7 separate regions of the Homo sapiens genome follow, and regions 2, 3, 4, 5, 6 and 7 are each linked to region 1. The links come from fine-mapping of genetic effects on gene expression. A gene starts in region 1. Each other region holds a variant in brackets. All regions are shown on one strand. Distances are from middle to middle.

Region 1 (4,000 bases):
TCCTTTGCATCACTTCTTCCCGCCGTTTTCTGATTTCTTCTTTTACTAAGCATAATAATAACCAAAGCTGCCCTTCAAGAACGTCAATTTCAAATGTATCGTGGCAGAGTCCAGGAAACAATATTGTGTAACACACTACCCTAAAACCTAAAGGCTTAAAACCACATGTATTTTATTGGCTCACAATTCTGTGGTTTGGCAATTTGGGTTGGATTCAGCTGGGCAGTTCTTCCATCAGTCTCTCCAGGTCTTATGTATGCTTCACAGGGGCTGGGTGGTCTAGTACAGCTCACTCACATGTCTGGAGGTGGCACCTTGTTGGCCAGGGTGCCTCAGTTCTCTTCCACACGGCCTCCTCGTGAGGCTAGCTTGGGCTTAAGGGGGGAAAATGAAAGCAGCATGGCCTCTTGAGGCCTAGGCTTGGAATTTGTACAATGTCACTTGTGACACATCCCATTGGTCAAAGCAAGTTACAAGATCCCATCCACATTCAAGGGGTGAATAAATTCCACCTCTTCTTGGGAAAAGTGTCAAAGAATTGATGGCCATTTTTAGTCTACTATGCTAAGTGCAGCCCCTTCCCCCAAAGTTATCCTTAATGCAGTCCCTTTGTGCCTCCACTCTCCTCTTTTAATTCCCATGCTTTTCTTATCCTTTTAATAATAAGCTCTCACTTCACATCACCCAAAGCTTCGTTCATTCACTTGACAAATACTTACTGTGTGCCAGGACCTATTAGTGAACAAAACAAAGCCCGTGCTCTAATGAATCTAAGATTCTAGTGGAGAGAGCGGACAATCAAGAAATAAACAAGAACACAGTGTTGGGCTATGGTGAACAATAGGTGCTTTGGAGAACAACAGAGCAGACTAAGTGCGGACTGTGTGTGAGGATAGCAGGGCAGTGGGTGGTTCCTATTATATGAAGTGGTCGGCTGTATCAATGAGGTGATATATAAGCAGGGTATTGAACGAAGTGAGGAGCAAGAAGTTCCAGGCAGAGCAAATAGCACGCGCAAAGGCCTGAGGCTGGCATGGAGAGGCAATTCCTTACAATTTCATATGTAGTAAAAAGTAACAAAACCCAGAAAAACACCAACCTTAATACATCTCATTAAAGAACAATACAACCCAAACATTTAAATATGGTAAAATCTTGATAAGCAAAAGCTTTTTATTTTACTTCATTTTTACTTTTATAAAAGCTCCTAATGCAATGACGTGTGTCACCTCTCTGGGCTTCAGGGTGTTCACCTTTCAAAAGGCCTCGGTGCCTGTCTGTCCTGCTTCCTGGCTTGTGGTTAGCATCAAAATGACACCATAAAAATGAAAGTTGCAGCCTTGAGGGTTCTTCTGGTTTCATTTCCGACCACAAGGTTGCCAGAGTGACTTTTTTTTTTTTTTAAATAACACAAATCAGTTATCACTTCCTGCTTAAAGCCCTCCAAAGGTTCCCTGTTGCCTAAAGAATAAACTCCAGGCACCTAAGCAAGCCCCACGCAGCCGTCTGCATTTTTCAATCCCTCCAACCTCGCCTTTTGCTATTTCCCCCACCCCACCTACGGCACGTTCCGGTCATAACCAACTAGCTCCTCGCTGAAACTGGCTCACACCGCGGAAGCCCGGGTCGGTGTCGGGGCGAGCCTTCCCTCCTTTTCCTGGAGCCCGTCTCAGGTCTGTAGCCCTCGGGAGGGATTGCAGGGCTCGTTCCCTGCTGGCGTTCATTTAGGTAACCTGTCTACCTCCAGTGGACTTCTAAGTCCCTTTCATGATTTTTCATCTTCCAAAATCAAATAATGGCCCAGCCCAACTTAGCTATAATGCCATGAAAAGAATCTCTGAGCCTCAGTTTCCTTGTCTGCAAAAAGGGCCCAGGAACCGCTCGTTAGGGTCGGTGTGGTGCCTGGAGAGTGCACTGCAAGGCCCGGGGCCCGCAGCGGGTGCCCGACAGCGGGCGTCCAACTCTGGGGGCGGGGCCGCAGGGCCGCTCAGGAGGGAGGTTCTCCAGAGGGGACCCCTTCGGGATTTGGGGGCAGGGAAGGAGATGGGGAGGACTTTCCCGAAGTCCGTCTAATCCCGCTGGCGGAGAGCGAGGCAGGTGGGACCCCAGGATGTCCGCTCGGCGGGGCGACCCCGGCCACCCCCGAGACCAGGGCTTTCCTCGTCCGGCCGCCACGCCCGCGCGCAGCCTCGGGCCACCCCGAAACCCCGGCGCGGTCACTACAGGACAAATTACGCGAGCAGAGCCTAGCGGCGCGCTGGGCATGCGCGGGGGCGGCGCGCATGCCCAGTCCCCCCGAGAGGCGGGAACTCCGGACTGAGACCGGGTCGGGCGTGCGCTGCCGAGAGAGGACGCGCGCCTCAGCCGGCTGCCGCGCACGCGCGCGGGCCCGCGCCGACGCAGCACGGCCTCGAGGGCGCGAGCCCGCGCCGCCGCCGCCGCCGCCGGTCCCGGACCACTGTGAGCCCGCGGCGTGAGGCGTGGGAGGAAGCGCGGCTGCTGTCGCCCAGCGCCGCCCCGTCGTCGTCTGCCTTCGCTTCACGGCGCCGAGCCGCGGTCCGAGTGAGTGCGGGGCGCCGGGCGCGGGGCGCGGGTCGGGGGCTGGGCGGGCTCCTTCTGTGCAGCGGTCGTGGGCTGGGCCGCGGCCCTGAGGGCGGAGGGGCAGAGCGGGGCCGCCCAACCAGTCCCGGGGCGGATGCGGCGGAGACCGGCCCCTCCCGCGCCCCCGGCCCGGGTTCTGGGAGGAGGGGAGGCCGGTGGCCGTGAGGAGGTTGGGGGCCCTCGCGGAGGCCGAGAGGCTTAAGGAGGTCAGGGGGCGCGCTGGGAGGCGGGGGTTCGGGGCGCTGGGTGGTCGGGAGGCTTGGGGAAGACTGGGAGGCTGAGGGACGTGGGGAGGCCGGGAGCTCGAGGAGGTCGGGGGTTTTGGGGGCGCGCGGGGAGGCCAAGGGGTTCGGGGAAGACAGAAAGGCTGGGGGACGTGGGGAGTCCGGGAGACGTGAGGAGGAAGGGGGGGGCGGCTTTCGAAAAGGCCGGGCGCGCGGAGAGGCCGAGGGGCCTGAGGAAGACGAGGAGGCCGGGGCTCTGGGGGCGCGCAGGGCGGACAGAGGCGCGGGGAGGACGGGCCGGCCTCCGCCGGAGCGGACCCAATGCCTGAAAAACAAAAGGGGAGAGGCAGGAGGAGGAAGAGGGAAATCGCAGGGACGTCGGCAGGGTTCGCCCGGACGCGAGAGGGAGGCTCGCGACGGCCCGACCTCCGTCCCCCGGGCGCGGCCTCGCGGGCAGCCAAGGGTGGGCTCCGAGCGGCCTGCCGGTGCCCGAGCCCCAAGCCCGCCGTGTCCCCGAACGCAAACCCTCAAGTTTGGTAGAGCCCCGTGGGCTTCTTGGCGGGAGCCCTGGAGCCCTCACTGAAGTCCTCACTGGAGTCATTGTGCTTCCCAAGTTTTCTCCTCTTCCCCGCCCCCAGCCCCCGACTCTGCCGCGGTGGCTTAGGCGCAACTGTTTGCCGAATTTCTCTCTGGGTTCCTTGTGTAGCGGCATCCTGTTCTTTCTTAGAAGAAGGGGTGTGTGTGTGTGTGTGTGTGTGTGTGTGTGTGTGTGTGAATTGGTTTCATTTAATTGCAGAATTTTGTAGCTAAATTCAGTGAGGGTAAAGTTTCTTTTTTTTTTTTTTTCCGAGTCATTTCAACAGTGTCTCATTCTTGCATAGTTAGCCTGCAGCTGGGTTTTTGGCAATGAGACTAAGATAATAGTAATATTGTAGTAATTATGGGAACTGGTTATACATTCAAGCTGAAAGCTGAAGGCAGTGCAAGAGTTTGGGGATTTGTATTTAAGACTTAACCATCGCTAGGATTTTTACTTAGAATGTAAACGTTTTCATGGCTGGAAAAACAGACCAGTACTATTTGAAATGAAATACCAGAGCCTCAACCTTAATATTTTATTTGGGAAACGGGTAATGAAAATGATGTCTTCGAGAGTTGAGCACTCCGTCCCATAT
Region 2 (4,000 bases), 310 kb after region 1:
TTTTTTTTATTACTGCATGCACAATAATTTTCTAATGTGATACTATGCTTAAAACAGGATTTTAATTTTAAATGAGAAAGCCCTATCTATATAAAGCCTACTTTGTGTTTTGAGAAAGAAATATGTGAGCATTTTTCCCTCACATAGCAGATCCAGTCAGTCTGAATGAAAGATGAATGCCGAGACGGGGAACTAAAGAGCAGTGGCAAGAGGCTGTCTGTCTGAAGCCAGGCTGCTGTCCCTGCTTCTGCTACGCAGCAAGGCCAACAGCTCTCCTATTTTTTCCCTCATACCAGATTCCAGATTTGAAAGCAATACAGTATAGTGAAAGGAGAAAAGACTGAGCTATAAACCTTAAATTTGAAGTTTTCTAGAGCCATACCCACATGAAAGTAGAGACTGTAGCTAAGCCGAACTGTTTTTTTTTTTTGGCTTGTTTGTTTTTGTTTGTTTTGAGACGAAGTCTTACTCTTGTCCCCCAGGCTGGAGTGAAATGGCGCAATCTTGGCACACTGCAACCTCCGCCTCCCGGGTTTAAGCGATTCTCCTGCTTCAGCCTCCCGACTAGCTGGGACTGCAGGTGCCTGCCACCATGCCCGGCTAATTTTTGTATTTTTAGTAGAGATGGGGTTTCACCATGTTGGCCAGGCTGGTCTTGAACTCCTGACCTCAGGTGATCCACCCACCTCGGCCTCCCATAGTGCTGGGATTACAGGTGTTAGCCACTGCACCTGGCTGAGAATCTATTCTTTCTGATTGGCTGTCTTTGGCTGTATTGCTCTTCAGTTCCCAATAGGCACTCATCTTTCATTCAGGAGGTCCGTGTATGCTCTATGAAAAGAAAAAGCTCAAGTATTTATTTCATTCACAGAACACAAGTAGATTTTATATGGATAAGCCTTTCTCATTTTAAAATTAAAATCCTGTCTTTAGGAAAATACCACATTAGGGAATTATGCATTAAAGAAAGTCATTTCATGAAATGTATATGGAAATAAAAATAGATTAATTCATGTAAACACATGAAACAATACCTTATTCTATAGGCAAAAATATGAGTTGCATTTTTTGTTTAAGTAAAACAGTAAATATTTCCTGCCTGTAGAAGGTTCTTATTATCTGTTGACTGATTGAAGCCCACCTCCACTGTTTAAGAGCTGTGTTACCCCAAGCAACTAAATCTTTCTAAGTCAAGTTCCTCGTCTATAACATATCTCTTGTGCCTTGGATATTAATTGAAGCATTCCTTCAGCAAATATTTACTACACATCTATGTGCACAATGCTGCCAGGCACTTCTTTCATTCTGATAATGACTGACTGAGGTATTATTCTGCCTATTTTACAGGTGAGGAACTGGGCCTAGAGAGGTTATATGCCTTGTCCAAAGAGGCATGGACAATCAGTTCACTAGAAAAATGCACAGGGCATTCATTTCCTCCACCTGTTTGTCCGGTGTTCTAGCAGGTAACAGAGACGCAGCGGTGAGGCAGACAGCTTCATAGCCTCTGTCTTCATGGAACTTAGCATCTCATGATAAGAAACAAAAATGGTCAACTATTTGGGGAAAGGGAGGAGGAGAGGAGCAAATTACAACAATATATTATACAGTATTTTCTTTATGAATTGGTTGAGAGTTTTAAAATGATAATACAGTGGTGTTAGGGTACAGTGAGAGAAATGCTATCACATATT[G/A]CTACATAGATGAAAATCAGGACAGCCTTGAGCAGTTTGGAAACTTATACCAAGATTTTTCAAATGTTCAAACTCTTTGACTTAGTAATTCCTTTCTTAGAAATCTGCTCCAGAGACAGGAAGATCACTTGAGCACAGGAGTTTAAGACCAGCCTGGATAACATAGTGAGACCCCCCACCCCCAACCATCTCTAAAAGAAGAAGAAAAGAAATCTGTCCCAGGGAAATAATCAGGGACTTAGTCAAAGATTTGTATACAAAGGTGTTCATCTACAGCCTATTTATGAGGGATTTTGAAAATGACCCTAATATCCAACAATAAAAGAACTATTTATTTTAACTCTTGTGTGGCACCAACTTAGTACTTTGCAAATATTAACTCATTTCATCCTCCTAACAATCCTATGTGTTGGTTACAATTACTGTTCCATTTTAGAAATGAAGAAATTGAGGCCCAGGTCACACAGCTTGTAAGGACTGGATCCTCATTAGAACCCAGGCCACCTGGTGCCACAGCTCCCACCCTTCACTACCATTGTCTATTTTATGATGATAATCATGCAGTGGAACGTTGTGCAGCCTTAAACATTGTTTTGTCAGTTTGCCCTATATAAATGTTATGTGAAGGCTGTAGAATCATATGTTGTGGTTCCATGTTTGTAAACATACATTTACACCACAGTATTAACTAATGATAATTACTTTTACATTTTAATTACTCCATAATAACTAATGATAATTACTTCCAAATGGTAAGGTTGAGTGATTTGTAATTTTTTCATCTATTTTTGCAGTATCTTAATTTTTCTACAGTAAGTGCATGTTTCTTTTGTTAGATTATTGACAAATGAGGTATACAATATTTTAAAATAACCAAAATCATGTAACTATTAAATGACCACATCGTAAGTTGGGCCTGGTGGGTCTTTTGTTTTCTTAGACTATAGCTCTAACTGGGCGTGGTGGCGTGCATGTATAGTCCCAGCTACTCCAGAAACTGAGGCGGATGATTGCTTGAGGCCAGGAGTTCGAGGCTGTAATGCACTATGATTGTGCCTGTGAATAGTCGCTGCACTCTGACCTGGGCGGCAGATCAAGACCCTGTCTCTTAAAAATAGAAACTGTTGGCCTGGCGCGGTGGCTCACGCCTGTAATCCCAGCACTTTGGGAGGCCGAGGCGGGCAGATCATGAGGTCAGGTGATCGAGACCATCCTGGCTAACCCAGTGAAACCCCATCTCTACTGAAAATACAAAAAATTAGCCGGGCGTGGTGGCGGACGCCTGTAGTCCCAGCTACTCAGAAGGCTGAGGCAGGAGAATGGCATGAACCCGGGAGGCAGAGCTTGCAGTGAGCTGAGGTCATGCCACTGCACTCCAGCCTGGGAGACAGAGGGAGACTCCATCTCAAAAAAATAAATAAATAAAAAATGAAAATAAAAACTTGTCCTTTCTGCTACAGTAGAGTCAAACCTAATCACCTCCACTCTCTGTTTAGAGCCCTTCAACAGAACCCCTAAGCAGAACCAGCTCCCAGCTGGTCCCTCAAGTGAATGGGCAGAAGAGGAAAGGATAGTTTCAGAGTTTTTTAAAGTTACAAGAATGGTACAAAGAATTCCCATGTTCCCTTTACCTAGAGTCTCCAGTTGTTAACATTTGACCTCATTTGCTTTGCATATTTGTACATACCATTTTTTCTGAACCATTTGGAAGTAAATACCAGATATCCTGCTTTTTAACTCTTAAATAGTTCAATGTGAATTTCCTAAAAATAAGGATGTTCTCTTAAATAACCATAGCTGAGTTAACCAATGTCAGGAAATTAACAATAATACAATACTGTTAGCTAATCAATGGACTATTCATATTTTACCAGTTGTCCACAGAATGCCCTTTCTAGAAAAAAGTCCTGGATCATGAGTTATATTTAGTTATCACATCTCTTGAGTTTCCTTTAAGCTTGAACAGTTCCTGGGTCTTCCCGAAATCTTTCCTGACCTTGATATTTACATTGAGTAATGTTCTGTGAATTGTCAACCTGGAGTCTCGTCTTCTCAGGTACTTTTTCTCAAAGTCCATTGTGTTTTGGAATATTTTTTCTTAAGCATATCTGGGATGTTTGGGCCCCACAAAGCTGCCTCTTCATTCAGGCAGTGGCAGAACCTCAGCATTCCATGGAATAGGATCTGTGAGTTCTGCTACATGGAATAGGACCTCCCCAGTGAGTTCCCCTTCAGTTGCCAGTTGGAATCAATGTATTACGTGTGTTTGCTTGGTTTCCTTTCTGTCTATTCATGTCTATCTTACC
Region 3 (4,000 bases), 180 kb after region 1:
TATCCTTTTCGTAAAAACTGATTTTGGAGTTTCAGACAGCAGAGATTTTCTAGTTTCTGTCCAGCACTGAACACCATAGGTTTGGAACTCACAGTCCTCATTGGCAGTCGCATTTAAGTACAGACCATAAGAACTTGGGTATATTCCTGCCAAAGGCGCCAACAGTTTTAGTTGGTGGAGAATGAGAGAGTTGTTTCTGTGTCCATAGGAAACTAACTCTGAATGATATCGTTTTCCTTTACTCCAGCTGCTTGAGCTTACTGGTTTGTTGTGTTGTTTGTTGCTCTCACTTCTTGGGTCTCAGCTTGTTAATGTGTAGGATGAGCAAGGTAACACCGCCTACAGAAAAAGCAGCATGTTTTCCCACATTCAGCTGAATGAGACAAATACAGTAAAATTGGAGTCCAGATTGTCTCTTAACATTGCATAGTTATTACTTTCAAACACATTTGCCCCAGTTACTTGGAAATTTTCCAGCAGATTAAATTATCGGGGAGAGCAGTTGAGTTCTTTACCACCACACACATTCCATGTCTAAGAGTTTGGGATGAGAAAATGAGGATCAAACCAAATTGACTCACTTTATTTAGCAAAGGGTTGATGGCTTCAATCCCTGTTGTAGAAGAACAGCACACAACTTCTTTTTAAGATTCTTAGTCATCAGATGCTGAGAAATAAGAGGCCAAGAGAAACAAGGAGGGCTTGAATTTAAAGGAGGCAGAGGGTAGAGAGTTGTTGGGTTACATTTGAAGAATGTTACGGGCGTAAAGTCTAACAGGACTTAGCTACTGGTCTAATGTGGGAGGAGGAAGAAGAAAATACAGGGCCTGGCCTCAGATTTCTGTCCCATACACTTAAGTGCTGTCTAGTGCTACTAGTCAAGAGACAATATTGAAGCAGAATCTGAACTGGGTGGGACTGCCCGTGATGCATTCAGCTGTGTAAGTAGTGAACTAGAAGTGCCTGGAGACTATGGGGGTCAAAGGGAAGGGGTATAGGAAAGAGTAAGTTCAGAGTGATAGAGTTGCAACCAAGTTAGATGTATATGTTAGGGTCCAGTCGGGTAGGGCCAATAAGCCACCACGGCTGAAATCTCAGTGCTCTTAGTGGCAGGTTTTAGATGTCTGTGAGAAACTGCAGTGGAACTGTCAGGTAGGCAGGTGTGTATATATATATATGCATTTTAACCTCAAGAGCAGATTCTGTTTCCTCGACTTCTATCTCCGTTACTTCATAGAATGTTTTAGGTTAATTTTAAAAAGCATTGAACAAATGAGCAGGTGTCAGTATATTATAATATTGCCAATAATTTATATATAAACCAGCAGCTGGTTGGGAATTAGGTACAAAGTAGAGAATTGACTTTTTTTCTGTACCTATTTTACATAATTTTTGATCACTGCATGTCAGTATTTACCTGAGTTGAAATATTCCTCTTAGAGTCATGAATGAATATACCAACATTTGGTTAATGTTAATAGAAATGTTTTGTCATTGTGTTCTGGTCCCTGTGTTCAGTTGACAACTGTTCCTTGCAACTGCTACCATATTCCAATTTATTGTATCATACACTTAAAGAGATTTTTTTATATTCCAGGGCTTTTGCTGGACTTATTTTCTATTAATACTTGTAGATGGGAGACATTTCTTACACTCAGAGCATTTGTACATTGAGGCAGCATGTTCTATGATAGAAGTTTGAAACTAAAGAAATCTGAACTGTCTTCCCACTTACTTACTAGAAAGTGAAACCTAATTTATCACAGGATAGAACTAGATTTTATTCATCCATATTATCTGTTTGAGAGTTTGCCAGAATCCAAGTTGTTATGGCAGAGACATGTAATTATTCATTGTAAAAGCACATCATTGAGTTTCAGCTGCGGGCTATACTCTTTTCTTTGGGGTAACAAGGCAGTGCATGCTCCCTTATCACCAACGTGGATCTTATATAAGTGCCATGTCTAAAAATACATTCAAAGCAGTATGAGACCCATAGGGATGTGGTGGTTGTTTCTTCCTGGTTTCTTCTATCAAGCAGAGCATCTTAGAAAAGGAGGTGTTTGAATTGGTCTCATAGCAAGTAAAAAGAAATCAAGTAGTTCTGGATTAGAATCACAATTCTTGTACCCCCTCGTTGTTACCTAATGTTTCAGTCTCTGTTTGCTCAGTAATATATGAAAAATAGTATCTCCCTTGCAAGGGTCATTGTGAAGACTTTGTTTATTTCCACGGAAGGGCCTACAGATGTCTTTTCTGGTATCATTTTTTGGTAGTGTGTGTGTGTTTGTGTGTGTGTGTGTGTGTGTG[A/TGA]ATCAGCGCCTAATAGCACTATATGCACAGAATTATACTGTTCCTCCTGTAGCCATGAATGAAGATCAGAATGCTCTTTTTCCAGCTGTACTCTGAATTTATTGAGAATAGATACCTGTTCTGATTATGCAGTGTATGCCAAGTGCCAAGCACAGAGTAGAATTTCCTTAGTGGATTTGTTCTAGGTCCAGAGTGTAGCGGGCCTGCTTCTTAGAGACTGCTTTATATTCAGCAAAGTCCCAAGGTACTATATTGTTAATTTATAAGGAGAAAAACATCATGTAGGTGGCTACAAGCAGTACTCAAATCTCCATGTCCAATCTGCATGCTCTGTTGTAGAGTCTGTCCTACATAGGTGATCATAAGCAGAGAATGTTTAGAAAGCCTGGAGTCAAACCAAGAATATGCTTTTCGGACTTTTGTTTATAGAGCATCTGAGGCTGACCACCTCACTTTCCATGTGATACATTTTATAGTCAAGCCTTGCTAACCTTGAACCCATTTTATTGCTCTTCAGTTTAAGTTCTGTGAAGCTGTAATTAATCCTTTTCAAAACAGCTATAATTCTCTTATTCCACTCTGTCATACTCACCTGTCAAAACCTCAGCCCTGGTTAAAACCAACTATTGGTCAGCTTACTTAGCTTTGGCCTTCTCTTTTGTCTTCATTTTATTTGCAGGTGCCATCTAGTCCCATGTATTTAAATACTTCAGCTGGTGGCTCTGAAATTTCTAGCAACAGTGCTGCCCTCTCCTGAGCTCCAGACTTAGATCCAAATGTCTCCTTGATGGTTCATGTTGGAAGACTTCAAGGTCAAACACATGTACAGGGTTAACATGACTTTATTTTTTTCACCAAGCCTGCCTCTTATGTTTGCCTGTTTGTTCCATCTAAAACTCTACTTTTCCTGGATTCTTTACTTTCCAGTTGTCTTGCATATGATCATCCAAATGTCCCAAAAGTGCCCATTTCTCTTCTTCACCACTACCTTGGGGTCCATGCCACTAGTGTTTTCTTGCTTGATCTGTTACAGTGACCTGACTGGTCTTTCTGCTTTCACTCCTACACACTCCCCCAACCCTCTGTGTGCAAGAGCAGAGCGAGCTTTTTAAAATAAAAGTCACATGCCTTAGGTAATCCTCCCATGTTCCACTATCTTGGCTCATTGAATTCCTGTCTTCAGGAATCTTGTCCTCTGCCTTACCTCAACCTCTCACTCTGGTCTTATTCATTTCCAGTAATCGAACCCCCTCCCTAATTGTGTGTATCCTTCTCTCTGACCATAGCTCCTGTCTTTCCAGCTCACTTTCTGTAGTATCCCAGATCCAGTAATCCTTGGATCCTACTAGGACCTTCAAGCCACTACAGACAGGCTATTACCTCCATGACCCCACCAAAGTATGCCATGCCCTCCTAGTTTACGGTGTACCTGACTTAGCAGCCACACCTCAACCTGGGCCCCTGGCTGCTCCCCATGTCCCTGACCCACTGAGATTAGCAGGTCACCTAATCCATCTTCCCTGTCTGCTGGGCCAGCCAGGACCTCCCCTTGAACTCCACTGGGCCCTTACTGGCCTGCTTGACAGCTCCACTTGGATTTCTGGTATTCTTCTGGCATTCTTTCTGACCTTTACCCACCAAACTGCTCCTCTCACAATTTCTGCCATTTCAGTTTAATGGCAACTCTTAA
Region 4 (4,000 bases), 24 kb after region 1:
CTTTTTTTTTTTTTAATTGACTTGTAGCTGTTCTTTCTATGTGTGGATTGCAATCCTTTATCATTATGTGTTGTGAATATTTTCTTCCAGTTTGTGGTTTGTTTTTTTTACCTGTGAGGTGTCTTGGAGCTAAAGTTCTTTTTTTTTTTCTTTTTTTTAATACTTTAAGGTTTAGGGTACATGTGCACAACGTGCAGGTTTGTTACATATGTATACATGTGCCATGTTGGTGTGCTGCACCCATTAACTTGTCATTTAACATTAAGTATATCTCCTAATGCTATCCCTCCCCCCTCCCCCCACCCCACAACAGGCCCCGGTGTGTGATGTTCCCCTTCCTGTGTCCATGTGTTCTCATTGTTCAATTCCCACATATGAGTGAGAACATGGGGTGTTTGGTTTTTTTGTCCTTGCGATAGTTTGCTGAGAATGATGGTTTCCAGCTTCATCCATGTCCCTACAAAGGACATGAACTCATCCTTTTTTATGGCTGCATAGTATTCCATGGTGTATGTGTGCCACATTATCTTAATCCAGTCTATCACTGATGGACATTTGGGTTGGTTCCAAGTCTCTGCTGTTGTGAATAGTGCCGCAATAAACATGTGTGCATGTGTCTTTATAGCAGCATGATTTATAGTCCTTTGGGTATATACCCAGTAATGGGATGGCTGGGTCAAATGGTATTTCTGGTTCTAGATCCCTGAGGAATCACCACACTGACTTCCACAATGGTTGAACTAGTTTACAGTCCCACCAACAGTGTAAAAGTGTTCCTATTTCTCCACATCCTCTCCAGCACCTGTTGTTTCCTGACTTTTTAATGATTGCCATTCTAACTGGTGTGAGATGGTATCTCATTGTGGTTTTGATTTGCATTTCTCTGATGGCCAGTGATGATGAGCATTTTTTCATGTGTCTCTTGGCTGCATAAATGTCTTCTTTTGAGAAGTGTCTGTTCATATCCTTTGCCCACTTGTTGATGGGGTCATTTGATTTTTTTCTTGTAAATTTGTTTGAGTTCATTGTAGATTCTGGATATTAGCCCTTTGTCAGATGAGTAGATTGCAAAAATTTTCTCCCATTCTGTAGGTTGCCTGTTCACTCTGATGATAGTTTCTTTTGCTGTGCAGAAGCTCTTTAATTTAATTAGATCCCATTTGTCTGTTTTGGCTTTTGTTGCCATTGCTTTTGGTGTTTTAGACATGAAGTCCTTGCCCATGCCTATGTCCTGAATGGTATTGCCTAGGTTTTCTTCTAGGGTTTTTATGGTTTTAGGTCTAACATTTAAGTCTTTAATCCATGTTGAGTTAATTTTTGTATAAGGTGTAAGGAAGGGATCCAGATTCAGCTTTCTACATATGGCTAGCCAGTTTTCCCAGCACCATTTATTAAATAGGGAATCCTTTCCCCATTTCTTGTTTTTGTCAGATTTGTCAAAGATCAGATAGTTGTAGATATGCATGCGGCATTATTTCTGAGGGCTCTGTTCTGTTCCATTGATCTATATCTCTG[A/T]TTTGGTACCAGTACCATGCTGTTTTGGTTACTGTAGGGAACTAAAGTTCTTAATTTTAATGTCATAAGCTTTATTTCTTTTTTCCTTTATGATGAGTACTTTTTATTGTTTTGATTTTTTTAAGGAATCTCTCTTTATCCAAGGGCTAAGTTTTGATGTGAAGTATTTTTATTTAGTTCATAAAGCATTTATTATTATTATTTTGAGGCAAAGTCTCATTCTGTCACTTAGGCTGGAGTCCAGTTGGACGATCACAGCTCACTGCAGTATTTTTTTTTTTTTGGACAGTCTTGCTCTGTCGCCCAGGCTGGAGGGGAGTGGTGCTGTCTCGTCTCACTGCAACCTCCGCCTCCTGGGTGCAAGCAGTTCTCCTGCCTCAGCCTCCTGAGTAGCTGGGACTACAGGTGTGCACCACCATGCCCAGCTATTTTTTGTATTTTTAGTAGAGATGGGGTTTCACCGTGTTGGCCAGGATGGTCTCGATCTCCTGACCTCGTGATCTGCCCACTTTGGCCTCCCAAAGTGCTGGGATTACAGACGTGAGCTACCGCGCCCATGCTGCACACTGCAGTCTTGACCTCCCAGGTTCAAGCGATCCTCCTGCTTCAGCCTTCTGAGTTTCTGGGACTAGCAGGTGTACACATTACCACACCTGGCTAATTTTTAAATTTTCTTTAGAGATAGGGTCCCACTATGTTGCCAAACTTGGTCTCTAGCTCCTGGGCTTAAGCAGTCTTCCCGCCTTGGCCTCCCAAAGTGCTGGATTTACAGGCAGGAGCCACCACACCTGGCCCATAAAGCATTTATTGTTCTATTTAATAAAGAAGTTTAATATTTAGACATATTTTGTAAATTCTACTGATTCCTTTGATGATTCATGATTTATTTTAAAGTGTTTGATAAATTACAAACAAATGAGCTTTTTTTCATTGTATCTTGTGACATTTCTAGAATTGGATTGTAGTCAGAAAATGTGTTCTGTATGTTACCAATTCTTTGAAATTAATGTTGTCTTAAATAGACCTATATTGTAGTAGAATTTGGCTAAAATCTTGGTCTCAACTCAGAAACTTTTAGGTACCTAGCCACTTAAACTCCAGCTATGCCTAAGTTATACCTTAGTTATGAAAAAAAGATTAGACTAACATTATTAGGCTTTTTAAAAAGTTAATAGAGTTTCTATTTTCTGCCTCTGGAAACACTTGTGTTGTTTTCTGGCTGAAGTTGAGGTGTTAATGTACATTATCAGCTTTTGGATTCTGTTCTACCCAAACTGAAGCTTAAAGACAAGTGACTGCCTCAACTGCCAGTTTGTTTTAGCTTAGCTGACAGGCAAGGAGTTCATGCTGTGACTGCAGCTGCTTTCCTTTCAGTGGCATTTGTTAATTAAGCTGTTTAATTTTGTGTTGCTTTCCCAAGGACTGATTCTTAAGGAAAAGAGAAAATTTTTAGCTTGTGGTTATTCTGGGACCTTTTAGCCTAGTGTTTATTTTGGGTGTCCATTTCATTTTTTTCTCCCCAGAAAGTAGCATTAACTTGAAAATTATCAGTTAAATAGTGGCTCAGAAATTAAATTTTATCTGTCTCCTGAATCTCAGGCATTAGTAATTGAAGTGTCTAGGTATTGTGATTTTTGTAGAGAGGTATTGTGTAAGTGTCTAGATATTGTAGTTGTGTAGTCTGTTTAAGAGAAAATGCATTTTATCTAAGAAACAAGACCCAACTTCAAATATTGGCTCTGCCTTTAGTCATGTGACTTTTGGCAAGTTAGTTTCTGTGCTTCTCAAGTCCTTATTTATAAAGTGTAGTTTTTATGGTCTTAGCCTTTGAGGTTATATGTGCAGTTACTGTGTAGAGTGGTATACAAATGTAAGGTGCTAATGTTGTTAATAGTATCTTTAACAGACGTAAGTAGTGTTTTACTACTAAAGGCACAGGTCCTTTCCATTTAATGTGATTTCACCAGTTCTTGAGCTGGTTCATTCAGTTAATTCATTTGTTCGCCATTTAAAAAATACTGTTTTGTGCCTGGTACGGTATTAAGCCCTGAAGGTATAGACTTGAGGGGGAGTGAGACTGTTATAGTTCCCTGGCATGCAGCATGATGTGTGCAGTTGTCTCTTAGCGTGCTCAGGCAATCTGGAGGGCAAGTCCCTTGTGATGCCCAACCTCAGGGGTCGGCAGACTTCCCCTCTTAAAGGCCGGAGAGTAGAAACTTCAGCCTTCGGGGGTCGCATATACACATACAGCCTATCGCATTTCCTCTAATTTTTTCTTCCTTTCTTCCCCCTCCCCCCTCTCCTCAACGCTTTAATAATGTAAAAATCATTCTTAGTCCAGGAACCATGTAAAAACTGGCTGTGGACTAGATGTGGTGACCTCTTTGTAAAGTATTTTTCAGCGGAAGATGGGAAGTGGATTCCACTCATGTGCAAAGGCATGGAGGTGTGAGAGGCTGGGGTTTTGTGGAACTGAATATTTTTA
Region 5 (4,000 bases), 37 kb before region 1:
CAGTGGCTCACACCTGTAATCCCAGCACTTTGGGAGGCCAAGGCAGGCGGATCACCTGAAGTCAGGCGTTTGAGACCAGCCTGACCAATATGATGAAACCCCATCTCTATTAAAAGTACAAAAATTAGCCGGGCGTGGTGGCATGTGCCTGTAGTCCCAGCTACTCAGGAGGCTGAGACAGGGGAATCGCTTGAACCCAGGAAGCGGAGGTTGCAGTGAGACAAGATTGCGCCATTGCACTCCAGCCTGGGCAACAAGAGTGAAACTCTGTCTCAAAAAAAAAGAAAAGGCCCCAGGCAGAGACAACCCTGCAATAACCTCCTAATCGCCTTCCATCAGGGTACAGGAAGGGCCAAGCAGTGGGAAATCCAGGAGCAGACACTGGTGTTGGGCATGAGAGTGGCATGATTCAGGAGGATGTGTACAGGCAGCTGCTAGCCAGGCACAGGGCTGGCCATAGAGCAGGACTCTTTAGGGGACGGCAAGGGGGCAACCTGGGGGCAAAACTCCAGGCTCAGAGAGGATTTGAGGGATCTGGGTGGAGCCAGCTGGATGGCAGGAGTCGGGAGGGCTGTGTTTTTTCCTGGCCAGGAGACCCGGTGGGTGGGGTGCATTGGAGCAGAGAAGGATGGGCTGTGGGGCCTTGACCAAGCCGAGCACAGATCATGTCCCAAGGGCAGAGCCAGGAGAATCCAGGGCAAGTCCTGAGTGCTAGGATGAGACCCCATATTGGTTAAGACATTTCTCCAAAGAAGATGTGCGAGTGGCCAAAAAACACAAAAAAGATGCTCAGCATCATTAGTCATCAGGGAAATGCAAACCAAATCCACAGTGAGATGCCAGGTCGGGCCCATTAGGAAGGCTACTATCAAAGGAGAAAAGTGAGTGCTGGCTAGGATGTAGGGAAACTGGAATCTCTGCCAGGCCAAGTGGCTCACGCCTGTAATTCCAGAACCTTGGGAGGCTGAGGTGGGTAGATCCCTTGAGCTGAGGAGTTCAAGACCAGCCTGGGCAACATGGTGAGACCCCATCTCTACTAAAAATACAAAAAAGATAGCTGGCCGTAGTGATGCACACCTGTGGTCCCAGCTACTCAGGAGGCTGAGTTGAGAGGCCTGCTTGAGCCTCAGAGGTCGAGGCTGCAGTGAGCTGTGATTGCACCACTGCGCTTGAGCCTGGGTGACAGAGCGAGACCCTGTCTCAAAAAAGAGAAAGAAATTCGAATCTTTGTGCACTGTTGCAGGGAGTGGCAGGTGGTGTGGCTGCTGTGGAAAGCAGTACGGTGGTTCCTCAAAAACTCAAAATAGAACTACCATATGATCCAGCAACCCCGCTTCTTGGTTCATATCCCACAAAACTGAAAAAGGGACTCTCACAGATATTTGCACACCCATGTTCATGGCAGCATAATTCACAATAGCGCAAAGGTGGAAGCAACCCAGGTTTCCATCTACAGATGAATGGATCAACAAAATGTAGAATATATCAAACAAAACATGATTCAGCCTTAAAAAGTATGAAAATTCTGTCCACGCTACCACATGAATGAACCTTGAGGACATTATGCTTTTGAATTAAGCCGGCTAGGAAAGGACAGATGCTGTATGAGTCCACTCACATGAGGTGCCTGGAGGAGTCACATTCTTGGAGACAGAAAGCAGAACAGTGGGTGCCAGGGACTGTGGAGAGGAAGGAAGGGGAGTTAGTGTTTAAAGTGGGGATGGAGTTTCAGTTTGGGAAGATGAAATCGTTCTGGAAATGGATGGTGGCGATGTGCGTACAACACCAGGAATGTACTTAATGCCACTGAAATGTACACCTAAAAATGATGAAGATGGTAAATTTTACGTTACACATATTTTACCACAGTTAAAACAACAACTGTAATTGTTTTATTATTTTTCACAATCCCTGTGGGTGATGAGTTTGGGAAGGGCTTGGTTGGGGATTCTGGTTGGTTCTGGATGGTTCTGGGTGGTTTTGGCTTGAGGTCTTTCATCACACTCTTACCTCCTTGAAGGCAGGAACCAAGTCATAGTTATCTAACTGACTAACTGGCTCTTCCAGCCTGGGGGGCCTCTGGGAGCACTCAGACCCTGGACAGCCAGGCAGCAGAGGGGTTCAGGAGCCCAAGGCCCACTGCCAAGAAGGAAGTGCCAAACAATAGCCCCCAAGAGGCCTGCCACTCTCACAGCCAGATTTGCACTTCCAGGGACAAAGGAGATTTCCTCTGTAGGAAATGATACCTGAGGGAGGGCTTCCTGCGGGAGCAAGCCAAGAAGGG[G/C]CTGGGGAGGAGGAGAGCAGCGGGGAAGTGAGCTCTGGATACTCACGTCCCTGGTTCTGGGCACAAAGCCAGCCCACAGGCCACTAAGGGCCTGGCATATTCTACATGAGTCAGGCTCTGAGCCTGGAGGTCAGCGGCCAGGGGATTAGGGTCATGAAAACACTCCTTTAAACCCCGGCTCCCCGTGTACCCGCTGTGTGACATACAGCCCTCTCTGTAAAAGGGGGACAATGATGAATTCAGTGTTCACTGGGCATCTAGGCACTGAGGATAGGATTGCAAGACCCAGACCCAGGCTTGCCCTCAGGTACTTCACTGCCTTCCTAGGGAAAACCAACAAAAATAAACCAGCAGAGGCAAATAAAAACAAAACACCATGAAATCCGAGTGTGGGGTATTTGAAGGTGTTGATTCATCTCACCCCCTCACCTCTGCAATTGGAATTAATTAGGAAACAGAATCAGCAGGTGGTAAGGGCTGAAGTGTCAGCTCCGTGCTGGAAATGTGAAGCTGCTGGAGTTGTTCTGACTCATAACCAGATGGGCTCTTGCTCCTTCCTCCTGAATTAAACATAACCATCCCAGGAAGGGGCCGAGCAGGGCCAAACAGGGGCGGTGCCCACTAGGGGAGAGCTGGCCACGGGGAGCCATCCCAAGGGCCACAGGCAGGCTGGGCTTCCCGGACTCCTCAGACTCCCTCTCCCCAGGGAGTGACGGGGAGGGACCAGTGCTGTTCTGCCCCCACCCGTGGAGTCAGCCTGCCTCCAAGGAAACCCGAGGAGGGGGCAGAGGCGTCCCTATGGCAGTAACAAATGTCCTGAAGGACCCAAATAGAGGCTGAGATCTAGAGTGACGGGCTAGGGCAGGTGGTAACCAAGCCAGGAATGGGACGAGATGCCAGAACCAGCAGGTGGGTGGGTTTCTGGGTGTGTGTGTGTGTGGAGGGGTCTTTTCCAGAAAGATGGACTGCCAAGTGCACAGACAGAGGAGGAGACCCTGGTGAAGTCCCGGCCCAGAGCTCATCTCCATTGCGAGGGGCCTCAGGAAAGGGCGCCTTCCCAGCCGCTTCCCTGTCACCCTCTGCTTGGAGCTTGGAGCCAGGCCAAGGGGGAGGCCAGGAAGAGGAGTGCAGGGGAAACGGGGAGAAGGGGGGAAGACTGAGAACTACTTACTCAGGACCAGTCAGAGGGAGGGAGGGGAAGATGAAGGCTGGAAGCAGAGGGGCAAACGGTGGAGGCTCCACAGGTGGGGGTGAAGCTGGGGTGGAAGATGCGCCTGTCCCCAGGAGCTCTTGGTCTTGCTGCCAACTGACTGGGTGTAGTCGGTGGCTCACTCCGGGAATCCCAGCACTTTGGGAGGCTGAGGCGAGTGGGTCACGGGAGGTCAGGAGTTCGAGACCAGCCTGGTCATCACGGCCCCATCTCTACAAAAAAATACAAAAATTAGCTGGGCATGATGGTGCACGCCTGTAGTCCCAGCCACTTAGGAGGCTGAGGCACGAGAATCATTTGAACCTGCGAGGTGGGCAACAGAGCAAGACTCTTTCTCAAAAAAAAAAAAAAGAGGGAGCACGGGTAGCTGTGGAGTGATGGGTGGGCTCTTTGTAGGGCCCTCCCATCTCTGCAGTTGCAGAGCAGCCAGCTGTCCTCCCAGGTGAGGTGGGGTCCGATCATTGTCCCCATGTGTAACAGTCTGAATTGTGTCCCCCAGGAGATCT
Region 6 (4,000 bases), 130 kb after region 1:
TCTTTGATGCCTTCTGATGTCTTCTCTGCAAAGCCTTTGTGTCATCTTTACTAAGTTAATTCTTACTCTATAATATATTGCTATTATGTGGGTTATATTTTATTATTTCTGTTTACCACTTATTTCTAAATTGAGCACTTAGCTCACTTGTTTTCATTCATTCATGTTTACTGATAAATGTATTTTACTATAAATGGTCATTTTAGTTGTGTCTATGTCTCACAACTTTGTTAGATAGTGTTTTATTATCAATCAGTGTTTTGATATTTGTTTCAAGATTTTTGGAAGAAACCAAGGGGTGATTAAGTGTATTGTTTAGGTTTCTGCCATATGTGCTTATAAAAGAAAAGATTATTGGTTATTGATTTTATTTTGTTGCATTATAGGAAGCATAACAATTTTATGGTGTTGACTTTTTTTAACTATGTTGAGATGATTCTTTGTGCCTTAGTACTTAGTTGATGTTTTCATTCCTTTTGAAAAGAAGGTATGTTCTGTTATTATAAAGAGGGCGGGTGTGTTTGTGTACATTTTTTCAAGCTTATCGTCATGTTATTTGAAGATTATATTGTTCATACTTTGCTTGAAAAGTGACATTTAATGTATTTAATTGTATATATTATACACATATATGTTTTGCTACATGCTCATCTCAAAGAAAGTATTCAACTGTAATTGTCGATTTACTTTTTTTTTTTAGTAATTCTGTCTTGTGATTCTTTATGATTTTAAGGCTATGTTGTTAAGTACATATAAGTTCATGATTATAATATCTTCATCTATTCTTTCTGTTACCAGTACCTAGTGCCCCTCTTTCTTTGTTTATGTGTTTCCTATCAGCAACATATTTATTGTCTTTGTGTATGAATTGATGAATTGTAGCCCATTAAATTAGAGGTGTGCCCATTCCCAATTTCATTCTCTATTCTTTGCTTCCGGAGGTAACTGATATCCTGACTTTTGTCATAATCATTTTTTTGCTTAAAAAAAAAAGGTTTTACTACTTATGTATTGTCCAAGTCTGACATCGTGATCATTCATTATCTGAATCAGAAAAAAGTGGCTTTATGATGCTGTTAAGGGAAAGCTGTGCTGATCAGTCACAGTCTCCCTGAGCAGAACACACTACTGATTCTATACAAGGTTTTTGGAAGTATGAAGTTGAGAAGCTGGCCAACTTTCAGAGGTGGAAATGGGTTGGCATCAATTTTAGATGTATGGTTACCCAAGTTAGACTGTTCATCTTTAGAAGCATGTTCTTTAGAGTTAGTTCCTGTTTGGCTAAATTAAAGAAGAAGCTGCCAGTCAGTTAGTTGACTTGCAGATGCGTGTTCATTGAGGCAAGATATCAGGCGCTTTAAAATTAGTTTCAAGTGGGTCTGTGGCTGTACAACTCATATTTATTGACCAAGCTGATTTAAAACTGGTTTTGTGTGTGTATGGGTTGGGGGGGCGGGGGCGGGTGTTTGTCACCACAGCTACAAAAGGGTCAGTCTTGTATATGTGGGAATTTAAAAATTCTCAATATAATATCAAAAGTTGCAAAATAGTACACAGAAATCCTGTGTACCCTTCAGCCAGTTTCCCTAAATATTAAAATCTTA[A/T]ATAATATAGCTAGTAAAACCAGGAGATTAACATTGATACAGTCCTAGTAACAAATCTATATGACTTATTCACATTTCCCAATTATTCCACTTACCGTTCCTTTTCTGGTTGAGGATCAATTCAGAATACCACATTACGGTCATGTCTCCTTAAGTCTTCTCTAATCTGAGACAGTTCCTTAATCTGTGTCATTATGACCTTTACATTTTTGAAGAATACTCACTGGTTATTTGTATTGTGTTCTTCAATTTGAGTTTGGTATTGTTTTTATGATTAAGGTTTTGCGTTTTTGGCAAAACGGCTGCAGTCAAGATGTCATACCTTTCTCATTGCATTGTATCAGGAAGTCCATAATGATGGCACAACTTAATTTACAGGTGGTTCTAACTTGGATCATTTGGTTAAGGTAATGGAAGCCAGGTTTCTCCACTACAAGGTTACTGTTTCCCCTTTATAATTAAGAAATATCTTCTGGGAAGATACATAGATACTGCAACATTCTGTTTCTCACTTTCACCCACTGATCTTAGCATTCATTGATGATTCTGTCTTGCAGTGATTATTACTGTAATTTTTGCTAAATGATAAATTTCTATTTCCATTCTTCCCTTTTTTAAAAAAATTGGAAGTCTATTGTAAGAACAGACTGTTCACACCACATTTTTTTTATGAGGGCATCTGTGTTGTGTGAAGTTAATGCTTTGTTTACTTCACTAAACACGGACTAGCTAGCTAACCCTTCTCAGTATCAGGACTATCATATTCTTAATCTAGCTCAGCTTTTCAAAAACATACCCTCTCCCTCCTTATCCTCAGTTGGTTACTTTTGGGTGTCTTAGTGCTCATATTTGGTGGTAAGACTGAGGAAGCTGGATGACAATGGCATGAATAGGAATATATTGCCTAAGAGTAGGAACGAAAGAATGATTTTATTTGGGGCATAGTATTTAGCTGCTGTTGGGAATCCATGGAGAGGCGTATAGCAGGGAAGTGGAAATATGTATCAGGATGCAACTAGACTCTTAAAATGGCAAACAGACATGTAAAGAAACTGACGAGTTTCGTGTAAGAGCAGAGTGGGGATGTCAGCTCTAGTGGGGCACGAGAACATGGTGTCAGGCATTGCAGTTTAAGGACTGAGGAAAGTTTCAGTAGAGTTTTGTGTGAAATATGCTAGACTGTAGTGTGTTGAAGCAGGGAACAAAGTTCTTTTTAACTTTCGTTTTAGGTTCAAGGGTACATGGGCAGATTTGTTACATAGGTAAACTACGTGTCACAGGGGTTTGGTTTACAGATTATTTCATCAACCAGGTATTTTTCTGATCCTCTCCCTCCTCCCATCCACCACTCTTGTTAGTCCCCAGTGTCTTAATTCCTGCTTTATGTGGATGTGTTCTCATTGTTTAGCTCCCACCAAAATTCTTAACATGATCTAAAGGCCTTGTCTAACTTCACATAAGCAGGCTTGAGTTAAGTTCTTTTCTGTTTTTAAGACATAGGTGCCTTTTCTTCGTATCATTGTGCCTTTAAATATTCATGCATGTTCTTGCTGGAGAGGAATCCCATGCCTACCTCTAAATAGCTGTGGGATCTAGGGAAGATTATGTAATTCCCTAAAATTCTCTTGCCAATCTGTGAACATAAGGTGAATATTAACCTGGCTATTATTTCTCACCCAGAATCTTGCTGTCTCCTCCTAGTCTCCCTCCTTCTTCCTTTGGTCCCCATTGTCTCTTCTGCATGGTGTATACCCTAATCATGAAAAATGAAAACCCTGTGATGTCATTTCTCTGTGCACAGCATGCCATTGACTTGCTTTCTCATTGAGAAAGAACCCGACTATCATGACTTGGTAAGGGTCTGTGTGAAGCTTCATTTCTACTCACTGCCCTCATGCAGCCTGCCCCAGCTACACTTGCCTTCCCAAGCATCCTCCAGCTGCAGGGCCTTTTCATAGTCTGTTCCACCTGACTAGAACACTTTTTCTCTGCATATAACTGTATAACTCCCTTCCTCATCTCCTTTATTTAGATCTTTGTTCAGATATCATCATATCAGAGTGTCCATCATTGACTACCCTTTATAAAAATAATACTTAATCATTTGTTATTCCCCTTTGATTTGTTTTTATGACATTGACTGCCATCTCACATATATTTGTGTATTTGCTGTCTGACTTCTGCCACAAAAATGCAAACTTTTTGGGAGTTAGCACTTTGCCTGTTATTCACTGTTGAATTTCCAACCACTCCAACTGTACCTGAGACATGATCTGTGCTGGAATAAACAGTTATCGAGTTATCACTAACAATAAACCTTAGAAACCATTTATTATGATATGCCAGTGACTGTTCTGGGTGTTTTGTGTTTACTGACTCATTTATTTCTTGTAACA
Region 7 (4,000 bases), 350 kb after region 1:
TGTGTGCTTTTTTGTGTCTAGCTTCTTTCACTTAACACAATGTTTTTGGGATGCATCCATGTGGTGTGTTTGTTGTTTTCTTTGTTTTGTTTTGTTTGAGATGGAGTCTCACTCTGTAGCCCAGGCTGGAGTGCAGTGGCATGATCTCAGCTCACTGCAACCTCTGCCTCTTGGGTTCAAGTGATTCTCCTGCCTCAGTCTCCCCAGTAGCTGGGATTACAGGCACCTGCCACTGCACCTGGCTATTTTTGGTAGTTTTAGTAGAGACAGAGTTTCACCATGTTGGCCAGGCTGGTCTTGAACTCCTGACCTTGTGATCCACTCGCCTCGGCCTCCCAAAGTGCTGGGATTACAGGCATGAGCACCGCACCTGGCCTGTAATTTTTTTTTAATTGCTGAATAGTATTCTATTGGGTACATAGACTACAGTTCGTTTACCATTCTCCTATTGATAGATATCTGATTGTTTCCAGTTCGGGGCTTAATGAATAAAGTGGCTATAAACATTTGCATACAAGTCTTTTTGGGTAGGTATGTTTTTATTTCTTTTCTCTCTTTTTTTTTTTTTTTTTTTTTTTTTTCCTGAGACAGGGTCTCACCCTGTCACCCAGGCTGGAATGCAGTGGCACGATCCGAGCTCACTGCAGCCAGGCATCCTCTTGTCTCAGCCCCCTAAAATGTTGGGATTACAGGCATGACCCACTACAACTGGCCAACTGTTTGCTTTTATGAAGGTCTGTTCAAATCTTTTGGCTATTTTTTTAAATTATTTAATTTATTGAGACAGGGTCTCATTCTGTCACCCAGGCTGGCGTGCAGTGGTTCAATCATGGCTCACTGCCAGCTCCACTTCCTGGGCTCAGGTGATTCTCCCACCTCAGCCTCCCCAGTAACTGGGACTGCAGGCATGCACCACCACATCCGGCTCATTTTTGTATTTTTTGTAGAGATGCAGTTTTGCCATGTCACCCAGGCTATTACTCATTTTTTAAAAATTATTTTATGTATTTATTTATTTATTTTACAGCAAGTCTCACTGTGTTGTCCAGGCTGGTCTTGAACTGCTGAGCTCAAACAATCCTCTTACTTCAGCCTCCCAAGTAGCTGGGATTATAGGCGTGAGCCACTCCACGTGGCCTTTTGCTGGTTTTTAAAAATCAAGTTTTTTACTTTATTATTGATTTGTAGTCATTCTTTATATATTCTGGATATAAGTCCTTTGTCAGCTGTATGTATTGCAAATATTCTCTCTCAGTCCGTGGCTTGTCTTTTTATTTTCTTAACAGTATCTTTTGATGAGCAATAGTTCTTAATTTGAATGAAGTTCTAATTAATACTTTTTAAAATACTTAGTGCTTTTTGCATCTTCTCTAAGACATCTTTGCCTGCCCCAAGGTTGCATGATATTTACCATATTTTCCTCTAAAAGCTATATAGCATTAATTTTTAAGGTTGTTTGTTTGTTCATTTGTTTTTGAGACAAGGTGCCACTCTGTCACCTAGGTTGGAGCGCAGTGGTGCATTCTCAGCTCACTGCAGCTTCGACCCCTCAAGCTCAAGCGATCCTCCTACCTCAGCCTCCCGAGCTCGAGCGATCCTCCCTCAGCCTCCCGAGCTCGAGCGATCCTCCTACCTCAGCCTCCCGAGCTCGAGCGATCCTCCTACCTCAGCCTCCCGAGCTCAGGCGATCCTCCTACCTCAGCCTCCCAAGTAACTGGGACTTTCTTTTCCCTTTTTTTTTTTCCTTCTTGAGACAGGGTCTCACTCTGTCACCAAGCCGGAGTGCAGTAGCATAATCAGAGCTCACTGCAGCCATGAACTACTAGGATCTAGGTGTATGCCACCAAGCCCGTCTAATTTTTATATTTTCTATAGAGATGAGGTTTTGCCACGTTGCCAGGCTGGTCTTGAACTTCTGGGCTCAAGCAATCCTCCTGCCTGGGCCTCCCAAAGTGCTGGGATTACAGGCATAAGCTACTACGCCCCGCCATATTAGTTTTATATTTAGGTCTATGATTTATTTTGAATTAGT[G/A]TGAAGGATGTGAGGTAGATGTTGAAGTTCATTATTTTCCATACGGAAATCCAATTATTCCAGCACCATTTGTTGAAAAAAATCTTTCTCCATTGTCTTGCCTTGGTACCTTGGTCAAAAACCTATTGGCCATTTATGTGTGGATTTATTTCTAGACTTGCTATTCTGTTCCACTGTTCTCATCTGTTCTTATGTCTATGCCACATTGTCTTGATTACTGCAGCCTTATAATGACTCCTGAAACCAAGCGTAGTCAGTCTTGAAAGTGGCTATTGCAAATCATCCAATTTTGTTCTTTTTCTCCAAGATACTTATTTTTGGCTCTTCTAACTCACTTGCAGTTACATTTACATTTTGGCACCAATTTGTCAACTTCCACGTTTTAAAAGGCCCCTTGGGGATTTTGACTCAGCTTCTGCTGTGTAACAACACGTGTTCCCCTCACTCCACCTCTGTGCATTAGCTGGCGCAGCTGCGTGTGGCTGGGAGGCTCTGCCTCCAGATGGACCTGGCTTCACATGCCCTCAGCGACCAGGCTGAGGAAGATGCAGGGAGGAAGGTTTCTCTAGGCCACCTGGCTGAGACCAACCTGGCAACCAGACGGGGCAACTGCATGTAAGCCTCTGAGGGCAGGACTGCTGACATCCTGTCGACCGTTGACAGTCACACGGTTGAGCTCAGCGCCACTGGGGTAAGAAATCAACTGTAAAGGGCAAGGGAGCGATGACTTTTGGATGGTAATCTCATCTATCACACCTTTCTGTAGACACCCAGACTCAATTAGGGTCACAAAAGATCCTTTTTTTTTTTTTTTTTTTGAGATGGAGTCTCGCTCTGTCGCCCAGGCTGGAGTGCAGTGGCGCGATCTTGGCTCACTGCAAGCTCCGCCTCCTGGGTTCACACCATTCTCCTGCCTCAGCCTCCCAAGTAGCTGGGACTACAGGCACCTGCCACCACACCCGGCTAATTTTTTGTATTTTCAGTACAGACGGGGTTTTACTGTGTTAGCCAGGCTTGTCTCGAACTCCTGACCTCAACTGATCCGCCCGCCTCAGCCTCCCAAAGTGCTGGGATTACAGGCGTGAGCCACCGCGCCCGGCCACAAAAGAACCTTTTGAAAGCCAGGTGACTTCAGTTGTAGCTTCCATCACCCTGAGGCAGGATGGCTGAGTCGCCAGCTGTGGGTTCTCACCCAGGACTGTCGGTAGGAGAGCAGCATGCGAGTTCTGGAGGATATCCTGGGAGGGGTCAGAGCACTGAGTCACTGTAACAGAATTTCCTTCCATTCTCACCCACGCTTCCTGGGACCGCAGCTGTAAGCACTGACATTCACAAACATGGGGAACGGGAAAAGAATTGTTGAAGAGCCCTGACTCCAGCAATGGGTCATCCGGTTCTTCCTGAGTCTGGGAATTAGAAAAAGAAAAGTCCACTATTTTCCTTAAGAGATTATTTCCAACAAAAATGTATGACTAATGAGTGACACTTTCATGACTAATAATTATTATTCAAACTTTGTAATATATTTGTGTTTGATTAGTTGTGTTCTGACAGTTGTAATGATAAGTAAGCCCAGAAGAATGTTTTCTAACACTTGGTCTCACAGGAAATAAAAATTTCAGATTTCAATTTATATATACTTTTTGTTGTAGACAAGTATATAGCATAATCAATAAGATTTTCAAACATAAAAATATCTCCTTAGGATAAAAATATGTGGAAGAATTAAAATGGAAAATGGGTCCTGTGAGGAAAAGAGTGATGTGAAATATTAAAGAAGAGGTGGCTCAGGTACAGTCAGCCCTCCATGCCCTCAGAGTCAACCAACTGTGGATGGAAAATGTAGTCAGGCCTATGATGGTTATCTCTGTACTGAAGGTGTACAGACATTTTTCTTGTCATTATTCTCTAAACAATACAGTATGATTATTTACTACATGGCATTTTACATTGTGTTAGGTATTAGAA

Alleles and levels. Positions count from the first base shown, and alleles are read on the strand shown. Sizes are in standard deviations (SD) of each study's normalised expression. Not every link is listed here.
For the expression in amygdala of the gene that starts at base 2,405 in region 1, allele G in region 2 goes with a lower level than allele A (small effect, 0.30 SD a copy in GTEx).
For the expression in monocytes after LPS of the gene that starts at base 2,405 in region 1, allele TGA in region 3 goes with a lower level than allele A (moderate effect, 0.50 SD a copy in Quach 2016).

The links. PIP is the estimated chance that this variant, and not a neighbour inherited with it, causes the effect.
Region 2: its variant is the best candidate, but not a certain one, in a credible set for the expression of PTK2 in amygdala (GTEx, PIP 0.51).
Region 3: its variant is the best candidate, but not a certain one, in a credible set for the expression of PTK2 in monocytes after LPS (Quach 2016, PIP 0.81).
Region 4: its variant is the best candidate, but not a certain one, in a credible set for the expression of PTK2 in whole blood (TOPMed, PIP 0.89).
Region 5: its variant is the best candidate, but not a certain one, in a credible set for the expression of PTK2 in nasal epithelium (TOPMed, PIP 0.83).
Region 6: its variant is the best candidate, but not a certain one, in a credible set for the expression of PTK2 in whole blood (TOPMed, PIP 0.71).
Region 7: its variant is the best candidate, but not a certain one, in a credible set for the expression of PTK2 in whole blood (TOPMed, PIP 0.60).

The regions. Positions count from the first base shown.
Region 1 is chr8:140,999,687-141,003,686 of GRCh38, reverse strand. It overlaps PTK2 (protein tyrosine kinase 2), which reads left to right and starts at 2,405. Exons shown (of 36, transcript NM_001352702.2): 1 at 2,405-2,562. RefSeq lists silencers at 1,971-2,390, 2,411-2,740.
Region 2 is chr8:140,689,072-140,693,071 of GRCh38, reverse strand. All of the region lies in intron 29 of PTK2 (protein tyrosine kinase 2), which reads left to right. Among named protein-coding and RNA genes, the nearest start is that of MIR151A, 42 kb to the left of the region's middle. The variant G/A (reference allele first, on the strand shown) is at 1,695.
Region 3 is chr8:140,820,661-140,824,660 of GRCh38, reverse strand. The region is part of intron 8 of PTK2 (protein tyrosine kinase 2); the gene reads left to right. Among named protein-coding and RNA genes, the nearest start is that of MIR151A, 90 kb to the right of the region's middle. The variant A/TGA (reference allele first, on the strand shown) is at 2,311.
Region 4 is chr8:140,975,417-140,979,416 of GRCh38, reverse strand. All of the region lies in intron 1 of PTK2 (protein tyrosine kinase 2), which reads left to right. Among named protein-coding and RNA genes, the nearest start is that of PTK2, 24 kb to the left of the region's middle. RefSeq lists an enhancer at 2,593-3,117. The variant A/T (reference allele first, on the strand shown) is at 1,516.
Region 5 is chr8:141,036,898-141,040,897 of GRCh38, reverse strand. It overlaps LOC124902030 (a long non-coding RNA gene), which reads left to right and starts at 2,861. Exons shown (of 2, transcript XR_007061121.1): 1 at 2,861-3,193; 2 at 3,994-4,000. RefSeq lists enhancers at 1,802-2,426, 2,427-3,052, 3,053-3,677. The variant G/C (reference allele first, on the strand shown) is at 2,285.
Region 6 is chr8:140,866,573-140,870,572 of GRCh38, reverse strand. All of the region lies in intron 4 of PTK2 (protein tyrosine kinase 2), which reads left to right. Among named protein-coding and RNA genes, the nearest start is that of PTK2, 130 kb to the left of the region's middle. The variant A/T (reference allele first, on the strand shown) is at 1,605.
Region 7 is chr8:140,645,291-140,649,290 of GRCh38, reverse strand. No RefSeq gene overlaps it. Among named protein-coding and RNA genes, the nearest start is that of AGO2, 12 kb to the right of the region's middle. RefSeq lists an enhancer at 2,784-3,983. The variant G/A (reference allele first, on the strand shown) is at 2,033.